Linked DNA regions of Homo sapiens: all the other regions are linked to region 3. Evidence: fine-mapped expression QTL. A gene starts in region 3. Each other region holds a variant in brackets. All regions are shown on one strand. Distances are between the middles of the regions. Region 1 overlaps ARF4 (ARF GTPase 4). Region 2 overlaps DNAH12 (dynein axonemal heavy chain 12). Region 3 holds the start of ARF4 (ARF GTPase 4). Region 4 overlaps PDE12 (phosphodiesterase 12).

The links.
Region 1: its variant is fine-mapped to the expression of ARF4 in whole blood (Lepik 2017, PIP 0.95).
Region 2: its variant is fine-mapped to the expression of ARF4 in whole blood (INTERVAL, PIP 0.91).
Region 4: its variant is fine-mapped to the expression of ARF4 in whole blood (INTERVAL, PIP 0.97).

Annotation. Positions count from the first base shown.
Region 1 is chr3:57,569,377-57,575,168 of GRCh38, reverse strand. ARF4 (ARF GTPase 4) reads left to right here. Exons shown (of 6, transcript NM_001660.4): 6 at 2,871-3,806. The coding sequence ends at 2,957. It also overlaps a transcript of PDE12 not described here. Among named protein-coding and RNA genes, the nearest start is that of PDE12, 16 kb to the right of the region's middle. The variant A/G (reference allele first, on the strand shown) is at 3,452.
Region 2 is chr3:57,479,564-57,484,563 of GRCh38, reverse strand. It overlaps DNAH12 (dynein axonemal heavy chain 12), which reads left to right. Exons shown (of 74, transcript NM_001366028.2): 13 at 1,053-1,188. Among named protein-coding and RNA genes, the nearest start is that of DNAH12, 62 kb to the left of the region's middle. The variant G/T (reference allele first, on the strand shown) is at 1,893.
Region 3 is chr3:57,594,382-57,600,173 of GRCh38, reverse strand. ARF4 (ARF GTPase 4) reads left to right here and starts at 2,830. Exons shown (of 6, transcript NM_001660.4): 1 at 2,830-3,100. The coding sequence starts at 3,034. ARF4-AS1 (ARF4 antisense RNA 1) reads right to left here and starts at 2,385. Exons shown (of 2, transcript NR_132370.1): 1 at 2,123-2,385. It also overlaps a transcript of PDE12 not described here. RefSeq lists enhancers at 1,807-2,512, 2,027-2,586, 2,607-2,856, 2,867-2,936, 3,127-3,176 and 4 more.
Region 4 is chr3:57,559,006-57,564,797 of GRCh38, reverse strand. It overlaps PDE12 (phosphodiesterase 12), which reads right to left. Exons shown (of 3, transcript NM_177966.7): 2 at 5,410-5,488; 3 at 1-5,236. The coding sequence ends at 4,794. Among named protein-coding and RNA genes, the nearest start is that of PDE12, 5.6 kb to the right of the region's middle. The variant G/A (reference allele first, on the strand shown) is at 2,389.

The DNA of each region.
Region 1 (5,792 bases), 25 kb after region 3:
TTTAAAAGTGGAGATGGGGGGCTGGGTGCGGTGGCTCATGCCTGTAATCCCAACACTTTGGGAGGCCTAGGTGAGCAGATCATCTGAGGTCGGGAGTTTGAGACCAGCCGGACCAACCAGGGAGAAACCCTGTCTCTACTAAAAATACAAAATTAGCCAGGTGTGGTTGCGCATGCCTGTAATCCCAGCTACTCAGGAAGGCTGAGGCAGGAGAATCACTTGAACCCAGGAGGTGGAGGTTGCGGTGAGTCGCGATCGCGCCACTGCACTCCAGCCTGGGCAACAAGAGCGAAACTCGGTCTCAAAAAAAAAGTGGAGATGGGGGGTCTCGCTTTGTTGCTAGGCTGGTCTTGAACTCCTGGACTCAAGCAATCCTCTCACTATCTCAGCCTACCAAAGCGCTGGGATTCCAGCCATGGTGCCCAGCCTTGTTTGCTTGTTAACATAACAGTTTATGGAGGAGACCAGGTACCACGGCTCACACCCGTAATCCCAATACTTTGGGAACCCAAGGCAGGAGGATTGCTTGAGGCCAGGAGTTCCAAACCAGCCCGGGCAACAAAGTGAAACCCTATCTCTACAAAAATAAAAATTAGCTGGGTGTGGTGGCATGTGCCTTTAGTCCCAGCTACTTGGGAGGCTGAGGTGGGAGGACTGTTTGAACCCAGAAGTTGGAGGCTGCAGAGAGCTGTGATTGTGCCCATTGCACCCCAGCCTGGGTGACAGAGCAAGACTGTTTCTTTAAAAAAAAAAAAAAAAATTTGTACTTCTCTAAAATTGCTTATCATTGATCAGTGATTCAGTGATGGAGATAAATTATCAGAAACTTAGTGTCATAGGCTTTTTACAGTAGTTTTGCATTAACCTGTAAATAAGGGAAATACTGTGGCTGTGGTAAAAAATGAAACAAACAACAAAGAACCTATTGCAGGCCGGGTGCAGTGGCTCACGCCTGTAATCCCAGCACTTTAGGAGGCTGAGGTGGGTGGATCATGAGGTCAGGAATTCAAGACCAACATGGCCAAGATGATGAAACCCCATCTCTACTAAAAACTACAAAAAAATTAGGTGCAGTGGCAGGCATCTGCAAGCCCAGCTACTCTGGAGGCTGAGGCAGGAGAATCACTTGAACCCAGGCAGCAGAGGTTGCAGTGAGCCGAGATCACGCCACTGCACTCCAGCCTGGGTGACAGAGCGAGACTCCGTCTCAAAACAAACAAACAAACAAAAAAAAACAACCTATTGCCTGTTTGAGATATCTCAGGCTGATTTGAAGAACATAAACTGGGCCGGGTGTGGTGGCTCACACCTGTAATCCCAGCACTTTGGGAGGCGAAGGTGGGCGGATCACTTGAGACCAGGAGTTCGAGACCAGCCTGGGCAACATGGTAAAACTCTGTCTCTACTAAAATTACAAAAATTAGCTGGTCGTGGTGGTGCATGTGTGTAACCCCAGCTACTTGGGAGGCTGAAGGCACGAGAATCTCTTGAGCCTGTGAGGCGGAGGTTGTAGTGAGCCGAGATCACGCCACTGCACTCCAGTCTGGGCAAGAGTGAGTACTCTGCCTCAAAACAATCAGTCGATCAATCAATAAATAAGCAAGCAACACTAACTGTAAATGATACAAGTTTTCCATGCTGTGAAGGTATGAATTTGAGCCTTTCCCCAGCCTCCTAGGTTACTGAGATTTGGTATTCAAATAATTGGCAACATGGTATACCTGCAGTGGCCTTGCAACATTAAACTGGTCAAAAAAATTAATAAAAGTAAACTATGCCTTAAATGTAAATTGTTTTCTAGGTTTTTTTTGATACTTTCACACAGTTACTAGAGATAAGATTCGTTGCCATTTAAAAGCAAGAACGTTTTGGAATGCATGAGACTAAAGATGGTGAAATTGTCTGAAAAGCTTGCCCTTAAAATATCAACAAACCCTACTCTTTCTTTCTTTCTTTTTTTTTTTTTTGAGATGGAGTCTTGCTCTGTCACCCAGGCTGGAGTGCTGTGGCACGATCTCGGCTCACTGCAAGCTCTGCCTTCTGGGTTCATGCCATTCTCCTGCCTCAGCCTCCTGAGTAGCTGGGACTACAGGCGCCCACCACCACGCCCGGCTAATTTTTTGTATTTTTAGTAGAGACAGGGTTTCACTGCGTTAGCCAGGAAGGTCTCGATCTCCTGACCTCATGATCCATCCGCCTCAGCCTCCCAAAGTGCTGGGATTACAGGTGTGAGCCACCACGCCCGGCCTAACAAACCCTACTCTTTCAAAAATTTGCCTCTTCTACTTTGAGTTTAGTTTTATGGGAAACGAGAGTTATAAAAACCAGATGGGTAGTTTATTAGTTACTAATTTCCCCATGATTTCTTTTTTCAGATTAAGTGGTAGAAAGTTTACTAAAAGGGAACCAAAAACCAGCACTGAAAAGAAAGCTGAATGAGGGGGGAAAATCTTGTCTAAATATAATGAATAGGTAGAAGTAGCTTGATTGATTGAGACGGAGTCTCACTCTGTCGCCCAGGCTGGAGTGCAGTGGCACAGCCTCGGCTCACTGCAACCTCCAGAATAGGTAGAAGTGGCTTTATTTTTAAAAAATAATTTAATCTAAAAAAGTAGAGACAAAGTCTCACCATGTTACCCAGGCTGGTCTCGAACTACTAAGCTCAAGTGATCCTCCCATCTCCGCCTCCCAAAGTGCTGGGATTTATAGGTGTGAGCCACCACGCCCAGCCAGAAGTAGCTTTAAATATGGGAGAGTTTTGTGAGATGCAAGAGGTGTGAAAAGACTCTTAAGTTTGATTAAGAAAGTTTAAACACTGGTGTTATATATTAACTTTGTTAATCAAGTATTTTCTTGTCTTCTCTTTACAGTGGTATGTTCAAGCCACTTGTGCAACACAAGGAACTGGTCTGTATGAAGGACTTGACTGGCTGTCAAATGAGCTTTCAAAACGTTAAATGAAATTGGATATCTAACCAAGGACATGTTTGATAAAATTGGTCTAGGCTTGTTACAACAAAATTAGTTTGTATCTTGGTTATTAAACAGTATCTGGGACTGGTTTGGGCAGAATATTAAACTTATTTTGTTGCCAATTATTGTTTACCGAGTATAATGTTGCTATTTAGCAATGTGCTTGGTTTTAAAGAAATTCTCCTTGGGAAAAAAGTATCCTCTTTTAATTTTACTTCCCATAAGCGTAAATGCCTGGACATAGCTCTTGTGCAACCTTTAAATAAATTGTTTTGAGTGTTTTTTGAGCCCCAGACAAATAATGTTTTAAAGTTATCCCCTTGCTACTTTACTGATACCTTTATCATTCCTGAGACAGTTTGCTAATTTAAAAATGTAGCATTCCATTTGTATTTATTTCTCTCCCTTGCCAAAAAGATTTTCTAATACTGCTTGTACCAGCCAGAGAAAGATCCAAAACACTACTCAGCTCTCTTGC[A/G]CTGAGGAAATTTTTCCCCCTACATTGACTCCTGGCCTACATCAGCCAAACTTAACCTTGGTGGGGTTTGGATTTGATAGCCAATTAGTTCTGTGCTGGTTGCAAAGAATTGATATTTAGATGGTTTTTAATACTCAGCAGATTGTCTTCCTTTATATTGTGTCTTTTTTATGTTGCATGTTGCTTTTGTTATCAGCCTGATTTTTTGCTCAGTATATGATAGTTCTGCTGATGTTTTGTTTATTGGGCAGACATATCTTCATTAAGAGTTTTTGGAAAACTCATCAAATTCGATGAATACATTTTCTTCATAACCCATTTGGAATTATTCCTAATAAAATGATAAAATACGTAATTGTGTGTGTTCTTTTTGAGTTTTGAAGGTATTTGAAATGTATTTTCTTATGTAGCCAACTTTGCTTGCATATTTTATGTACTGTGAACAGTAACACAGATCCCACTGGTAGGTTACTAATTGTATAAAGTGGAGATCTAGATTGTTTTCATGTGTATAACAGCATGGGGAACACTATTAAAAACATAGTTTTCTAAAGTCAGATCAAGGGTAAAAGGAGGGCCTGGCATGGTGGCTCACGCCTGTAATCCTAGCACTTTAGGAGGTTGAGGCAGGAGGGTCACTTGAGAATAGGAGTTTGAGATCAGCTTTGGCAATGTAGTAAGACCCTGTTTCCCCTGTCTCTACTTAAAAAACTAAAAACAAAACAACAACAACAAAAAAATCAGGTGGGGGGTGGGGAGGGGCGGCATGTGGAGTGGGGTAGGGAGAGTAAAAGGCTGTAATAAAATGAACTGCCCAAAAAGCATGTATGTATGTGTTTTTTAGTTAAGGTTAATTAAACAAAAAAATTCAGGTGCTACTTGTATGGCCAATATAGAGACTTAGTGATGCTACTTTCCTACAAAAAAGTTTCACAACCACTTTTCTTTTTAACAGGGCAAATTTTAGAACTTTAACAGAAAGCTGCATATAATTCATACAAAGGTATACCTCATAAACTACATCTATTAAGTTTTAAGGGCTCAACTTGATAACTGAGTAACTTAGTTTCTGTCTATATTCTCATGTTGCATTCTTAATGGCTTGTAAAGATTCAGCTAAATTTATGGATTGAAAATTCCAAAATCAAATGCATACTTTTAAAAAAATGTATATTTTTGAATTGTCAAATAAATAACAATGGCCAGGCGTGGTGGCTCACACCTGTAATCCTAGCACTTTGGGAGGCCAAGGTGGGCAGATTGCCTGAGCTCAGGAGTTCAAGACCAGCCGCAACATGGTGAAACCCCATCTCTACTAAAAATACAAAAAAAAAAAAAAAAGGGTCTGGTGTGCTGGTGCATGCTGTGGTCCCAGCTACTTGAGAGGCTGAGGCAAGAGACTCGCTTGAACCTGGGAGGCAGAGGTTGCAGTGAGCCAACATAGCGCCACTGCACACGGTCTGCAAGACTCTGTCTCCAAAAAAAAAAAAAAAAAAAACACTGGATTAACCAAAAGGAAATTAGAATTGGTTGATGATTAGGTAGGGCAAAGTGTATGTTTAGTTTGTGTTACTTGTTAGAAATGCAATTTCCCTAGCCAACTGGATGAATTCTCCTTTCTTCCTTCCAAAGAAGACAGGTGTCATTTCCTATAGGATAAAACTGAACTATAGTATAATTGTTGTGTGTGTAGTCTTATGGGGCATCAACTAGGAAATATAAAACATCAGTGAATAAGTTCAGCGTTAGGGCTAGGTATTTAACCTAGTTATGCAAAGGTGTTTACATGGACTGTAAAGGGACTAGAGAATCTATGTAATCTTACTCGTGATGTAAAGCAGCTCTTAGTACCATTGGAAATTACCTTTTTTTTTTTTTTTTTTTTTTTGAGATGGTTTTACTCTGTCACCCAGGCTGGAGTCCAGTGGCAGGATCTTGGCTCACCGAAACCTTTACTTCCTGGGCTCAAGTGATCCTCCCATCTCAGCCCCACAAGTAGCTGGTACTACAGGCATGAGCCACCATGCCCAGGTAATTTTTATAGTTTTTAAAGAAAGTATTAGGCTGGGTGGGGTGGCTCACATCTGTAATCCTGGCACTTTGGGAGGCCGAGGCAGGTGGATCACCTGAGGTTGGGAGTTCAAGACCAGACTGACTAACAAACATGGAGAAACCCCATCTCTACTAAAAATACAAAACTAGCCATGCATGGTGGTGCATGCCTGTAATCCCAGCTACTCGAGAGGCTGAAGTGGGAGAATTGCTTGAACCTGGGAGGTGGAGGTTGTGGTGAGCCAAGACCGCACCATTGCACTCCAGCCTGGGCAATGAGTGAAACTCC
Region 2 (5,000 bases), 120 kb after region 3:
GGATTTAAGTCTTTGATCCGTCTTGAGGAGATTTTTGTATAAGGTGAGAGATGGAGATCCTGTGGCTGTTCAGGTTTCCCAGCACTATTTATTGAATAGGGTGTCCTTTCCCCAATTTATGTTTTTGTATGCTTTATCAAAGATTAGTTTGGCCCAGATATTTTAAAGCACAGGAAAAAATTCCATGAAATGTAACTTTAGTTGAATAATGCTGTAGGATATCTAGGTTCATATCCTACATGGGATATTCTAAGAGAACTGTTAATTAAAGAAACTATGTATAAGAGTTTGAGGGTTTGATCTGTTTACTTGCTGTACTGTCATGTTTCACAAGAGGCACTAATAATAATAAAACTAATAATTATACTAATGATTATAGTTATCAGTAAATAGAGTGTACTATGTGCTAGACCCTTTGCATTCATTGTTGTATTACAACAATCCAGAAAGATGAGTGTTACCTGGGTATTTAAGAGAGTTGAAGAGGTCGCTAAAATTTTTTTCTAATATGCCATAATTTTGCATGTAAATATTACCTTAATTTTGTAGGTTTTGTTGATGTATAGTATATACTGAATTATAGCAGATAAGCTTTTTTTTTTTTTTTTTTTTTGAGACAGGGTCTCACTCTGTCACCCAGACTGGAGTGCAACGGTGCAATCATGGCCCACTGTAGCTCAACCTCCCAAGCTCAAGTGATCCTCCTGCCTCAGCTTCCCAAGTAGCTGGGACTACAGGCATGTGCCACCATGCCCAGCTAATTTTTGTATTTTTTTTTTTTGTAGAGACAGGGTTTCACCACTTTGCACAGGCTGGTTTTGAACTCCTGAGCTCAAGTGATCTGCCTGCCTTGGCCTTTCAAAGTGCTATGATTACAGGTGTGAGCCACTGTGCCTGGCCAAGCTTAAATATTTTTAAGATACCTTAGTGAATCAAGCAATTTTTTTAGGATATCATAGTTCTTATTTTATAGTAATCGTCATAACACACATTTATTGAATATGATATAACATTAATTGCCATAAGTCTATTAAAGCAGAGTATTATGTCAGTATTTGCAGTGAATTTGAAGCAATTAAAGAACATGCATTAAAAGTCCCTGAAACAACAGAAGAGATGATGGATCTGATATCTTATGTAGAAAAAGCCCGGACTGTAGGAATCGAAGAGTTGATTTTAAGGATCCAGGTAAGGAATTTTAATTTGCATATTTTGGTTTGTTTTCATTGTGAAATATTATTTTCATGGTGAAGATGTATAAAATATATAGTTACACAAATAGCTGTAAATTGAGCGGTTATATTGCCACCACCTAGGCCAAGAAATAGGATATTGTCAGCACCCCAGGACTCTGCATATAACTTTCTGATCGCCATGCCTCTCCTTCTCCCCTGTCCTCTTCTAGAGGTTTCCAGTTGATTTTTACAGTAATTTTAGCTTGGAATTTCTTTTTTTTTTTTTTTTCAATGTTGCACAGCTTTGTTTTTTTATTATTATACTTTAAGTTTTAGGGTACATGTGCACAACGTGCAAGTTAGTTACATATGTATACATGTGTCATGTTGGTGTGCTGCACCCATTAACTCGTCATTTAACATAGGTATATCTCCTAATGCTATCCCTCCCCCCTCCCCCCACCCCACAACAGTCCCCGGTGTGTGATGTTCCCCTTCCTGTGTCCATGTGTTCTCATTGTTCAATTCCCACCTATGAGTGAGAACATGCGGTGTTTAGTTTTTTGTCCTTGCAATAGTTTGCTGAGAATGATGGTTTCCAGCTGCATCCATGTCCCTACAAAGGACATTAACTCATCCTTTTTTATGGCTGCATAGTATTCCATGGTGTATATGTGCCACATTTTCTTAATCCAGTCTATCATTGTTGGACATTTG[G/T]GTTGGTTCCAAGTCTTTGCTGTTGTGAATAGTGCTGCAATAAACATACGTGTGCATGTGTCTTTATAGCAACATGATTTATAATCCTTTGGGTATATACCCAGTAATGGGATGGCTGGGTCAAATGGTATTTCTAGTTCTAGATCCCTGAGGAATCGCCACACTGAATTCCACAATGGTTGAACTAGTTTACAGTCCCACCAACAGTGTAAAAGTGCTCCTATTTCTCCACATCCTCTCCAGCACCTGTTGTTTCCTGACTTTTTAATGATCGCCATTCTAACTGGTGTGAGATGGTATCTCATTGTGGTTTTGATTTGCATTTCTTTGATGGCCAGTGATGATGAGCATTTTTTCATGTGTCTTTTGGCTGCAAAAATGTCTTCTTTTGAGAAGTGTCTGTTCATGTCCTTTGCCCACTTTTTGATGGGGTTGTTTGTTTTTTTCTTGTAAATTTGTTTGAGTTCATTGTAGATTCTGGATATTAGCCCTTTGTCAGATGGGTAGATTGCAAAAATTTTCTGCCATTCTGTAGGTTGCCTGTTCACTCTGATGGTAGTTTCTTTTGCTGTGCAGAAGCTCTTTAGTTTAATTAGATCCCATTTGTCAATTTTGGCTTTTGTTGCCATTGCTTTTGGTGTTTTAGGCTTGAAGTCCTTGCCCATGCCTATGTCCTGAATGGTATTGCCTAGGTTTTCTTCTAGGGTTTTTATGGTTTTAGGTCTAACATTTAAGTCTTTAATCCATCTTGAATTAGTTTTTGTATGAGGTGTAAGGAAGGGATCCAGTTTCAGCTTGCTACATATGGCTAGCCAGTTTTCCCAGCACCATTTATTAAATAGGGAATCCTTTCCCCATTGCTTGTTTTTCTCAGGTTTGTCAAAGATCAGATGGTTGTAGATATGCGGCATTATTTCTGAGGCCTCTGTTCTGTTCCATTGGTCTATATCTCTGTTTTGGTACCAGTACCATGCTGTTTTGGTTACTGTAGCCTTGTAGTACAGTTTGAAGTCAGGTAGCGTGATGCCTCCAGCTTTGTTCTTTTGGCTTAGAATTGACTTGGCAATGCAGGCTCTTTTTTGGTTCCATATGAACTTCAAAGTAGTTTTTTCCAATTCTGTGAAGAAAGTCATTGGTAGCTTGATGGGGATGGCATTGAATCTATAAATTACCTTGGGCAGTATGGCCATTTTCACGATATTGATTCTTCCTACCCATGAGCATGGAATGTTCTTCCATTTGTTTGTATCCTCTTTTATTTTGTTGAGCAGTGGTTTGTAGTTCTCCTTGAAGAGGTCCTTCATGTCCCTTGTAAGTTGGATTCCTAGGTGTTTTATTCTCTTTGAAGCAATTGTGAATGGGAGTTCACTCGTGATTTGGCTCTCTGTTTGTCTGTTATTGGTGTATAAGAATGCTTGTGATTTTTGCACATTGATTTTGTATTCTGAGACTTTGCTGAAGTTACCTATCAGCTTAAGGAGATTTTGGGCTGAGACAATGGGGTTTTCTAGATATACAATCATGTCATCTGCAAACAGGGACAATTTGACTTCCTCTTTTCCTAACTGAATACCCTTTATTTCCTTCTCCTGCCTGATTGCCCTGGCCAGAACTTCTAACACTTTGTTGAATAGGAGTGGTGAAAGAGGGCATCCCTGTCTTGTGCCAGTTTTCAAAGGGAATGCTTCCAGTTTTTGCCCATTCAGTATGATATTGGCTGTGGGTTTGTCATAGATAGCTCTTATTATTTTGAGATACGTCCCATCAATACCTAATTTATTGAGAGTTTTTAGCATGAAGCACTGTTGAATTTTGTCAAAGGCCTTTTCCGCATCTATTGAGATAATCATATGGTTTTTGTCTTTGGTTCTGTTTATATGCTGGATGACATTTATTGATTTGCGTATGTTGAACCAGCCTTGCATCCTAGGGATGAAACCCACTTGATCATGGTGGATAAGCTTTTTGATGTGCTGCTGGATTCAGTTTGCCAGTATTTTAGTGAGGATTTTTGCATCGACGTTCATCAGGGATATTGGTCTAAAATTCTTCTTTTGTTGTGTCTCTTCCCGGCTTTGGTATCAGGATGATGCTGGCCTCATAAAATGAGTTAGGGAGGATTCCCTCTTTTTCTATTGATTGGAATAGTTTCAGAAGGAATGGTACCAGCTCCTCCTTGTACCTCTGGTAGAATTCGGCTGTGAATCCATCTGGTCCTGGACTTTTTTTGGTTGGTAAGCTATTAATTATTGCCTCAATTTCAGAGCCTGTTATTGGTCTATTCAGAGATTCAACTTCTTCCTGGTTTGGTCTTGGGAGGGTGTATGTGTCGAGGAATTTATCCATTTCTTCTAGATTTTCTAGTTTATTTGCGTAGAGGTGTTTATAGTATTCTCTGATGGTAGTCTGTATTTCTGTGGGATCGGTGGTGACATCCCCTTTATCATTTTTTATTGCATCTATTTGATTCTTCTCTCTTTTCTTCTTTATTAGTCTTGCTAGCGGTCTATCAATTTTGTTGATCTTTTCAAAAAACCAGCTCCTGGATTCATTGATTTTTTGAAGGGTTTTTTATGTCTCTATTTCCTTCAGTTCTGCTCTGATCTTAGTTGTTTCTTGCCTTCTGCTAGCTTTTGAATGTGTTTGCTCTTGCTTCTCTAGTTCTTTTAATTGTGATGTTAGGGTGTCAATTTTGGACCTTTCCTGCTTTCTCTTGTGGGCATTTAGTGCTATAAATTTCCCTCTACACACTGCTTTGACTGTATCCCAGAGATTCTGGTATGTTGTGTCTTTGTTCTCGTTGGTTTCAAAGAACATCTTTATTTCTGCCTTCATTTCGTTATGTACCAGTAGTCATGCAGGAGCAGGTTTTTCAGTTTCCATGTAGTTGAGTGGTTTTGAGTGAGTTTCTTAATCCTGAGTTCTAGTTTGATTGCACTGTGGTCTGAGAGATAGTTTGTTATAATTTCTGTTCTTTTACATTTGCTGAGGAGTGCTTTACTTCCAACCGTGTGGTCAATTTTGGAATAAGTGCTGTGTGGTGCTGAGAAGAATGTATATTCTGTTGATTTGGGGTGGAGAGTTCTGTAGATGCCTATTAGGTCCGCT
Region 3 (5,792 bases):
GTACCTGTAGTCCCAGCTACTTTGGGGGCTGAGGTGGGAGGATCACTTGATCCCAGGAGGTTGAGTAAGCCGAGATGATGCCACTGTACTTCAGCTTGGGTGACAAAGTGAGACCCTGTCTCAAATAAATAAATAAATAAATGTAAGAAGGTAGTATAGTGTAGTGGTTAAGAGTGTTAATGGCTGGGTGCACTGGCTCACACCTGTAATCCCAACACTTTGGAGGCTGAGGTGGAAGGATTGCTTGGGCCCAGGAGTTCCAGACAGGCCTGGGCAACATAGCCAGAATCCACTTATTTATTAAAAAAAAAAAAAAAAAAAGAGTGTAAATACCAGTTAATACCAGAAGAAATGGGTTCTTATAGCTGTTCCACTGCTTTTAGCTGTGTGACCTTGGGCAGAATATTTAATCTCTCTGACCCTGATTATTTTTATCTGTACAATAGAGATATTACAGTCTGCCATTAACATCCTGTTTTGTAATTTACATTAGCCACTTGATGTGTAGTGTATTCTTACTGAAAAATCTGTTTTGACAACTTTTGTTTTGGTTCAGGTTTTGGAGGCTAGAGATGGAGAACAGAATTCTTTCGATTTATTTTGCATAACTAAACAGAAAACATGGATTAAGATTTGGAATAAGTTACAGGGAGGAGGGCTCATACGGTTTGTCTTTTGAATTTAAGAAGACCCTAAGAATTAGTTGAAGATTGTTTTAAGGAATTCTACTATATAAAACTAAAAACAGACATAAGGCCTAAAGTGTGAAAGGAAAATAAATCTTGGGGCCTCCACCTCACTAAGCTAAAGAGAAAAGTCAAGCTGGGAACTGCTTAGGGCCAACCTGCCTCCCATTCTTTAAAAAGTCACCCCTCTGCTCACTGAGATAAACGCATATCTGACTGCCTCCTTTGGAGAGGCTAATCAGAAACTCAAAGGAATGCAACCATTTGTCTCTTATCTATCTATGCCCTGGAAGCTCCCTCCCCACTCAGAGTCTTCCTGCCTTTGCTTTGAGTTGTCCAGTCTTTCCAGAATGAACCAATGTTCATCTTACATATATTGATTGATGTCTCATTTCTCCCTAGAATGTATAAAACCAAACCGTGCTCTGATCACCTTGGGCACATGTCTACAAGACCTCCTGAGGCTATGTCATGGACGCGTGTCCTCAACTTTGGCAAAATTAACTTTCTAAATTAACTGAGGCCTGTCTCATATTTTGGGGGTTCACAAAAGGATACAAGAAGGTCTTGTCACTTAGCAAGCTTCCAAAATGCAATTTTGAGTTATTCAACTGCTAAGCAACTCTTTACATGTATCTCCAATGCAAAGGAGGGTACTTCTGAGTAAAGAAGTTTTTGGGGTTTTTTTGTTGTTGTTGTTTGTTTTTTTAAGACAGTCTCGCTCTGTCGCCCAGGCTGGAGTGCAGGGGCGCGATCTCCGCTCACTGCAACCTCCGCCTCCCGGGTTCACGCCATTCTTCTGCCTCAGCCTCCGGAGTAGCTGGGAGTATAGGCACCCGCCACCACGCCCGGTTAATTTATTCTATTTTTAGTAGAGACTGGGTTTCACCGTGTTAGCCAGGATGGTCTCGATCTCCTGACCTCGTAATCTGCCCGCCTCGGCCTCCCAAAGTGCTGGGATTACAGGCATGAGCCACTATGCCCGGCCAGAAGTTTTTGCTTTTAATTGCCCAGGGCCACTCCTAAGAAATAACAGTCTCTGAAGGGTAGATAAGGTAGTGCTACCAAGAGAAGCGTTACTCAGCAAGCCTTCAAAAATATAAAAATAACTTACTGTTTCTGAAAGTTTGCAAGTTTTTCTTATTCAACCCCATCCTATGGAAATATACCAGTTGGAATAAGCAACTACAGAACCACATAGGACGGCACTACTAGAAAAATAGATTAAATCTTTATCCTGGCAATGAGTCTAATACATTTATCATTGCTGTGAATTTTAAAAGGTGTAGCAGGCCGGGCGCGGTGAGTCACCGCGCCAGGCCCGATCATAAACACTTTTAAAGTGAAGAGGCTTTCCGCTTCCTCAACATAAGGAGTAAATCTTTAATGCTGCTTCTAGGAAAAAAAGTACAAGAAAAGCAAGACTTCCTCCTTGCCTTCTCTTTAAAAAGCAACAGCCGATGAACACGTGTTGGAGCGCTCTCGCCTTGACAGAATTAGAGATCTTCAGAATCACTTGGCGTGGTGGTCGAAGCGTCTAGCCCTAGCTCATTAGGGTGCCACAGTTTCTCGGCCCACAAGTCAGCTTTTAACCACTTTTCTCCGCAAAAGACCGGACCGGTCTTCATGCGTCAACTAAAGCAAGCGTCTGGTCCCGTGTGTGAAACGTGTAAGTTCATGGCATCAGGGAATACCCATCGCGCGTACCGTAATAGAAGAGGGCGAGGTTCCTCACCTAACCCATAATGCTCAGCTCGCCTTTCCGGAAGCAAGGACTATCACCCCGACAATACCTTCATCCGGGCGGAAGCGTCTCACCCTGAGTCTGATTTGGCAGTGACGAAGCGAGGTATTGTGGGACTTTGTCCGTCTCCCAGTACGCATGTGCCTCAGCCGGCCTCTCCCGGCTCCTGGGGCCACGTCCGGGCGGTGGCGCCGTCGAGAGATGCTCGTCAGCGAAACTGGCCAATCCCCTGCAGGCGCAAGCGCAGTGGCTCGGGCGCACCGGAAGCGCAGGGGGATGGGGCGGCGGTGACGCGATTCTGTCCGCGTTGGAGGGGCCGGGCCGCTGCTGGAGTCGCCGCGGCCGCCGCGTGACGTGGCACAGCCAGAGCCTAAAGGCTAGAGCCGGAGCTGCCGCGCCAGTCGCCTAGCAGGTCCTCTACCGGCTTATTCCTGTGCCGGATCTTCATCGGCACAGGGGCCACTGAGACGTTTCTGCCTCCCTCTTTCTTCCTCCGCTCTTTCTCTTCCCTCTCGTTTAGTTTGCCTGGGAGCTTGAAAGGAGAAAGCACGGGGTCGCCCCAAACCCCTTCTGCTTCTGCCCATCACAAGTGCCACTACCGCCATGGGCCTCACTATCTCCTCCCTCTTCTCCCGACTATTTGGCAAGAAGCAGATGCGCATTTTGATGGGTGAGTGAGGGGCTGCGAGTCAGGCGGGACCTGGGAAAGGCAGGGTCTCCACAATTGGGGTGGCCTCTGGGCCTGTTTTTTTCCTCCGCCCGCTGTGGTGGGGGAGGGGCGCCGGGTCGGGGGTCGGAAGGAATTCTTAAGGGGGAACAATGGAGCGGAGGGTGAGCGATCCCCCCCGCCCCCGATCTGTCGCCAGACGAGACAGGGACAGGGCTTCGGGCAAGATTTCTTTCTGGACTCGGCTTTTTCTCCTTGATCTTATTGAAAGCTGGACAACATTGGGCAGAGATGTGGGGAAAGCCAACTCTGGGAAGCAAACACTTGGCGAGGCCCTTTCTGGGGGTGCGATCTGCATACCTTCTTGCCCGGGTGTGGACAGCGGTCAGGAGGGAGGCAGAGCAACTCCAGCCTTTTCCCTCCCCTTCTGCGTTTCGTGTACAGTCCCTGCATACTCCATTGGTATGTAAGCCAGCGGCCACCCGGAGCCTGGAGCCGCCCGGGGCAGGAAGTTGCGGTGGCCAGGGAGCACCCAAGGTTTCCGAAGAGTCTGGAGTCCTTCAGCGCTCACTTTGCTAAACTTGGCCTTGCGCTGGATTCCGTTTCAAGTTTTTCGCTCCTTGTTAATCTCATTCTCCGAAAACTGAGCTTATCTTCTATTTCTTTGACTATTTTCAAAAACTTTAAATGTGTTTGGTTTATTCTCCTAGGTTTTTAAGCTTATTTTTAGGCGGTCTAAGGTCTAATGCAAAAAAATTTTAGAAACGAATTTTTAAAAAATACCTGATAAATTTTCAAGTAACTGAACATCATGACGCTGAATTTTATGGTAGTCTTGTTAAATAGTAACTACAATTTTTTTAAAATTTCTTTTTAGAAAGTTGACTTTTTAAAAACTACTTTTTAGGGGGCGTGTTTTTGCTCAGCTGAGGGAGAAGGGCTGTCAGTTGGCTGAAGTAAGCAACCGCTCCCGGTTACTGTAAGCAGTCTACATCACAGCTGAGCTCCATGGACTAGAATAACGCTGAAAGAAGCCCCTCTAACTTTGAACGTTGAAACTTGTTGGTTCATTAGCTTGTTTTCTACCGGAGGAGGTTTTATTTTTCTCTTCCTTTTTTTTTTTTGCAGACGGAGTTTTGCTCTTGTCACCCAGGCTGGAGTGCAGTGGCGCAATCTCGGCTCACTGCAACCTCCACCTCCCGGGTTCAAGAGATTCTCCTGCCTCAGCCTCCCGAGTAGCTGGGATTACAGGCATGCAACACCACGCCTGGCTAATTTTTTGTATTATTAGTAGAGACGGGGGTTTCACCACGTTGGCCAGTCTGGTCTCGAACTCCTCACCTCAGGTGATCCACCCACCCAGGCTTCCCAGAGTGCTGGGATTACAGGCGTGAGCCACCGCGCCCGGCCGGAGGTTTTATTTTAGAGCTGTACTACCATCAAAACTTGCAAACACAAGCTTCTGTAATATTTCAAGGTATATAAAGAGTAACAGTATATACATTGGCTCATGTTTATTTTCCTCTTAGCGTACTTACACTTTGTGAATCAATTGTTTATGAGTCATTCATAAAGTATTTTTTCTTTCAAAGTTTCTTAGATTTCCTTTGTCAAGAGGACAGAATTATTTTAGGAGGGCAAGCATATTTAAGTTTTCAGTGGCTGAAAGTTGGCAGTCTGAAAAAGGATCGGAAGTTAATGGGAGGACTTCGGACTGTGATAAATGAATTTCCAGTCTGTTCGTTAAAGAGATTTAACAATATATGGTTATGTTCCAGAACACATAGTATATTGGTCTTTTTACTTAAGATTTATTGTAAATGAATTGCTATTTTTCAATTCCTTAGTCTTTTGTGATTGATGAAAGTATCAGAGGGGCAAGGAATATAGAAGTATGCTACCAGCATTTTCATATATTTACTATATTGGGAGGCATTTCCCTCCACCCCAAAAAATGATTCGAAGAAAATGGGAGAGAAAAAATATTTAAGTTTCTGCATTTGTGTGGAGGATTTAGGAGTTACTTGTTTTTAATGTTTTATTACTCAGGCATGCTATCGTTTTGCACTTTAATTTTGGGATAATCAGTTTTCCTTGACTAAAAAACACTTCAGTCACAAGATCGACATTTATGGTAACTCATCAAAGGAAGTATCAACGTACGAGGGAGATATGTGCATGAACAGGGAAAAAGGTGGTTTGGAAGTTTGATAATTCTTACATTTTTCTGTCTGGCTTTATGAGTGACTGACAGCAAAAATAATAGATCACTTTTAAAGTGTCTGCCCCATTCAACTGTTGGAATTATTAATGTTTTACATTAGTGTGCTTCGTTTTTCTTTATAAAGCTTAGATAAGATTCATGCCCTCCTGAGTCAGTGTTTTATTCAGACTTTACCATTTTAAAGTATAAAGGAGATAGCAGTTAGCTGATGTGTCAGGTTTGCCAAACTACTATGGAGAAGTTTTAAATTTAATTCGTACACCTGCTGTTCTTCAAAAGTTCAAGTAACTTTAAAAGATATTGGAAGTTAGCTTGTAGTTAACTGTAATTAAAAAACCAACACAGTGTATCAAATTTAACATCATCTGAACTATTGATTGACAGAAATTATGTACTAGTTATAAGGGTAAGTTATGCAAGTGATGATATTGCCCATACTGCTCGAGTTAGGAAGCAATAGCTTCTGGCCAG
Region 4 (5,792 bases), 35 kb after region 3:
CTATTTGGGGAGGCTGTGGTGGGAGGATTGCATAAGCCCAGGAGGTGGAGGTTGCAGTAAGCCGTGATGGCACCAGTGCCCTCCAAGCCTGGGTGACAAAGCCAGACCCTGTCTCAAAAAAGAAAAAAAAAGTGTTTATATTATCCAGTATAAGAAAGCCAACTAAATAAAGCCTATCCATTTCCCCTACTGAACCATCTTCAATATATAAGGAACACAAATGGTATGAAACTAGCACAAATGCAACCTAGGAATACTTCAATACACTAAAAAAAAAGTACATCAATACTTCATGATAACATCATTAAAGTGAATTACTGGGCAAAATGGACTGTGTTATATAAATGCTTTGACATACATTCATTACATAAATTGGACAGAAGATAGAGATGAATAATTCAGTTTTCTGTGAAATTTTGCGGGGAAATTTTAAATTATGAGTAAAAATCTAACACTGACAGTATGAACATGGATTTTTGACAACCCAGAATTTGCTAGCATAGCAGATAGGTGAACAGATTTACTATATTTAAGATTATTTTGCCATTTATATATAAAATTAAAATTTAGGCCGGGTACCGTGGCTCATGCCTGTAATCCCAGCACTTTCAGAGGCTGAGGCAGGCAGATCACTTGAGTTCAGGAGTTCAAGACCAGCCTGGCCAATATGGTGAAACCCTGTCTCTACTAAAAATACAAAAATTACAAGCAGTACTGTATGGTTATTTTGAAGTTAGTGCTAAGAAGAAAAATAAAATCACGAAGTTAATACAGCTCTAGTATTTTTAACATTTAAAAAAGTACTTTCATATAAAGTGAGAACACAGAACTTATATATTACCCATGTCAGTTAAAGCTGTTAAAAATTGTCCTCCCTACCCCCTACAACATGAAATCTAGAGTGGTTTTTTGAAGACAGGGTCTTGCTCTATTACCCAGGCTGGAGTGCAGCGCACCTTGATCACAACTCACTGCAGGCTTGACCTCATGGGCTCAAGTGATCCTCTGGCCTCAGCCTCCTGAGCAGCTGGGACTACAGGCATGCACCACCATGCCTGGTTAATTTTATTTTTTGCAGAGATAGGGTCTCACAATGTTGCCAAGGCTGGTCTTGAACTCCTCAGCTCAAGTGATCCTCCTGCCTCAGCCTCCCAAAATGTTGTGATTACAGTCAAGAGCCACTATGCCTGGCCCTCTAGATAGTGTTGCCTTCCTGTACTATATTAAGCAAATTATTAAAATTCTCAAAACACTGAAATATTTTTTATTTGTGTTTAAAAAATTCATTTTCAGGGCTGGGGGAGGGATAGCATTAGGAGAAATACCTAATGTAAATGACGAGTTAACGGGTGCAGCAAACCAACATGGCACATGTATACCTATGTAACAAATCTGCACGTTGGGCACATGTACACTAGAACTTAAAGTATAATAATAAAAAAAGAAAAAAAGAAAGTTAGTTTTCAGTTATGGAAGGTTGGGCTTGTAATCTCAACTACTTGGGACGCTGAGGCAGGAGGATCATTTGAGCCCCGCAGTTTGAGGCTGTAGTAAGTTATGACTGCACCACTGCACTCCAGCCTGGGTAACAGTGAGACTCTATCTCTTAAAAAAATTATGCTGAGAATATTTTCTGAGTTGTCACATGGGTCTTGTGATAAACTAATAATGCAAACTTTTATTTTTCATTATATATAAATATTGGATTTATCCCAACCAAACTAGTTTGCAGGGAACCTCTGCCTTTATTTCACGGCTGGAGAATGAGATACAAAAGATGTCAATTTCCATCGTAAGAACTTTCCACAGTAGTGTTCTTTGGACATTCTCTCCCTTGTATTAGGCTCCTCAGAAATCTATCTCCAGACTGAAACCAGCACATTCTGATGAGATCATAGCTTAGTACTCAGAAAAATCACTACTCAGTGGAATTCTTGAAATTTTGAAACAACTGATTTTAGCATACAGAATTTCAAAAAGAACATACATTACAGCCAGAAACGATTGTTTGCTCATGAATTTTGATTATTGGCAGACACATTTGCTGTAGCGGCAACTGTGCAAGAGTTCATTTTAACAGAATAATATGTTCTGAAATACTCTTTTATAATCAATATAAAATTCTAGAATGTTAATTCCTATAGCAAGAACTTGTGACATTATAAAATGTGGTTTACCATAGAAAGTCGCTAGATTTCCCATGTTTTCTTAAAATTAAATGTACTAAAAAATCCAAATGTAATAGAAAAATGCAATCACATAGGTGCTTTAAACAGACATTTCTGAATAACACTGCATTCTAACTCATGAGTACAAAGAAATGTGTATGCTATTTATACATTTTCTTAGTGTTCCCTACCTTTGGACTCCAATCATTTTAACGTATCC[G/A]TATACTGGAGATTTGATCACAGTATATGGCACTTCACAATAACATTCCATGTCCTAATAATGTGAAATGCCTGTATACAATCTGAGTATATTGTTTAGTCAGAAAACATCAAAATTAAGGATATAGGACATGGAATGTCTGTTAAGTGCTGAGTTTTTCTGACTAGAGTTTAATCTAGCCAGTGTTAATGTGGAAGCTGTATGCTTTTTTCATGGGCATGTTCGAATTTTTTCTTTCAAAATGTTTCTCAACTTTTTGATGTGACACTTTGTTTTCTCCCAAGTCACTCTAAGGGTTCTATCAACATCTTTCTTTGAAAACAGCCCAAAAACATATTTTTAAAATGAAAAAAAAATTCACAAGAGAATCAAGATTTGGTTTTAATCTATTATTTACATATTTGTAAACTGCTGTTAAAATGCTCTCAAAAATGTTATTTAGGAAGGCACAATTTGGTAGCATCAATTTTTTATTTATAGTTTTTTCTAAACAAGATCCGAAGAAACTTCCACTTTAATTTTCCCCTTGGAGTACTTAAAGTACTTCAAGGTTCAATGTCAAATGCAGATAAAACCCCTTCATTTTCAAACTTACTAAGTGTTAACAATACATTTGATAGTGAGCAGAATATGAAAGTACAGATGTTATCAAAAGAGGAAATTCTTATGATACTAGGTTCAGAGATTAAAGAATTTGAAACAAGGGCTTTCATGACTGGGGAAAATCAAAGCTTTTCTTGAAGGGAGTGGGCTTTTAATACTCGAGCTATTAATTAAATGCAGAAATGAGATAACATAGTTATCCTGAACATCAAAAAAGCAACAGCTAATACAGCTAATGCATTATAAATAATGTATTTCATAACTGAATTAGTAAAGCATGGTTACCACTCTAGGCTAGACACTAATCAGTATAACCATTTGTAGTTTCTAATTTTAAAAAGTTTGGCTTCATATTTAAATTTCATTTTACTATATATATATTACATATATACACACTGTTGTCTGTAACTCAAACTATAATGCTTGTCTGTAAAAAGAAGTTTTTTATTTCAGAGATGCTTAAAAGTCCCACTACTCAACCTTTTTCCTGTTTATAAAAACCAACAATTTTGAAATTACTTCTAGTGTAGAAATGCTCAATGATTCATCCAAAATTTCAAGCCCATATCAGTAGGTAGTTTCTCATAAAGTAATGTGCTGTATTTTCTAATATCATATGGTCAAATACCCTGTTCATTTATGAACATTTTTCATGGGCAAGAGTAACTGAAGACAATGGGATCAAGTTGAATATGTTGCTACTCACTTTGAATACTAAATTGTGCTTGCATCCTAAAAATTAAAATGAGCTGCAGTAAGAATTAGAATATAAACTGTGTTCATTTGTACCATACACTAAAAACTAAAATCCTAAAAATAAGAATGAAAATACCTTACTTGTTCATTGAAAAATGAAAGATGAGAAGCAATAACAATTGGTGACGATTTATTTTTATCTTTTGTTAAAGCTCTGAAATTGTAGTAAATCGCTAACTAAATTGAGGTAGAGGTAGACCCTAATGTTACTCCTTCCATGTGTCAAGTCTCTCACCTTAGGTCTCTAAGGTCACCTATAACTTAAGTCTCTCACCCTTAACTTAAATACATTTTCCCTCTTAGTACATAAGCATGATTCATTTTGGAATGTGTTGTCATGAAAGAAAAATTAAGATCATTCAAATGGTACTTTAAAAATTCTGAACTCCTAGCTAAAAAAATTCTCTTATAAAAATGTACACAAGGGCCGGGTGCGGTGGCTCACGCCTGTAATCCCAACACTTTGGGAGGCCGAGGTGGGTGGATCACCTGAGGTCAGGAGTTCAAGACCAGCCTGGCCAACGTGGCGAAACCCCATTTCTACTAAAAATACAAAAATTAGCCAGACATGTTGGCGCACGCCTGTAATCCCAGCTACTCGGGAAGCTGAGGCAGGAGAATCGCTTAAACCCAGGGGGCGGAGGTTGCAGTGAGCCGAGATTGTGCCATTGCACTCCAGCCTGGGCAACAAGAGTGAAACTCCATCTCAAAAAAACAAAAACAAAAACAAAAACAAACAAACAAAAAACACGCTAATTCAATCTTCCTTTTCTGAGAGTCTCAATTTGGAGAAAAATAATTCAATTTTCTATTTTGCTAGTAAGAAATATATTTGTTTCTCCTCCAATTGTAGAGGAAAACAAGGAAAGAGAAGATGTATGATGCAAACATCAACAGTTTCATAACGAAGACATCAGGAACATAACTAGGAGGGCTGAACATTTTACCATTCCTCCTTGAAGTTTACATATAAGCTTTGATTCATATTAAATTTTCTGCTAAAATAACTACTTCCTTTTCAGACTTCAATTCCATTAAACACACATCTATTTCCATTTTAAATCACATACAAGTGCTATGTGATCAGAGGGATGGGAAACACTAGGTAAGGCCTGGTGGGTGGTAACTTCTTCATGACTAGGTAATGGAATCACCTGTTCAACCTCTAAAGCATTTAAGTCAATGAAAATGTAATCTAGACATCCATGAAAGCCACCAACATAATTTGTGTAAGCAGGTTCACCACAAGCACTTTTCAGCTTGAAGAAATGTGTAAGAGACATATTGCATCTTTCCTCCTCCCCATTGGAAGCCCAGTCTTCATGATCCTCTGGAATGCTGCCATTGATGACAAAATGATACATTCCTGTTGATGGTGTACTATTAAAGTCCCCACAAAATATAACTGGTATGCCAGGATACAGATCACATGAAACATGTCTTATGTGAGCCAAGGCTACTGCCATTTGAATGAGGCGAATATACCCACCTATGAATATAAAAAACATTAATGTAAGTATTTTTTAAAGTTGTCTTTAAGTTAAAAAAGAAAAACTACACAAATTACAGTCTCTGGGTGACGTTCAAGATATGCATTTGTGTAAAACACTTTAAACAACTTTAAGCGTGTTTAAGTCACTTGTGATACCAAATAAAACCTACCTTTAGGATGCCAGTAAAGATGGGTATTAGCAACACATATCCTTTTAGAAGAGTCCTTTGTAGACTGAAGAACTGAAACCTAAAATAAACGGAAAGTGCCAAGAGTTCAGTTGGCATTTGCAAATCTCCTGAATGTTTTTGTTTGTTTGTTTGTTTTTTTGAGTTTTTTCGAGACAGTCTCACTCTGTCAACCAGGCTGGAGTGCAGTAGCGCGATCTCGGCTCACTGCAAGCTCCGCCTCCCGGGTTCAAGCGATTCCCCTGCCTCTGCCTCCGGAGTAGCTGGGACTACAGGCGCGTGCCACCACGCCCGGCTAATTTTTTTGTATTTGTAGTAGAGACGGGGTTTCATCGTGTTAGCCAGGATGGTCTCGATTTCCTGAC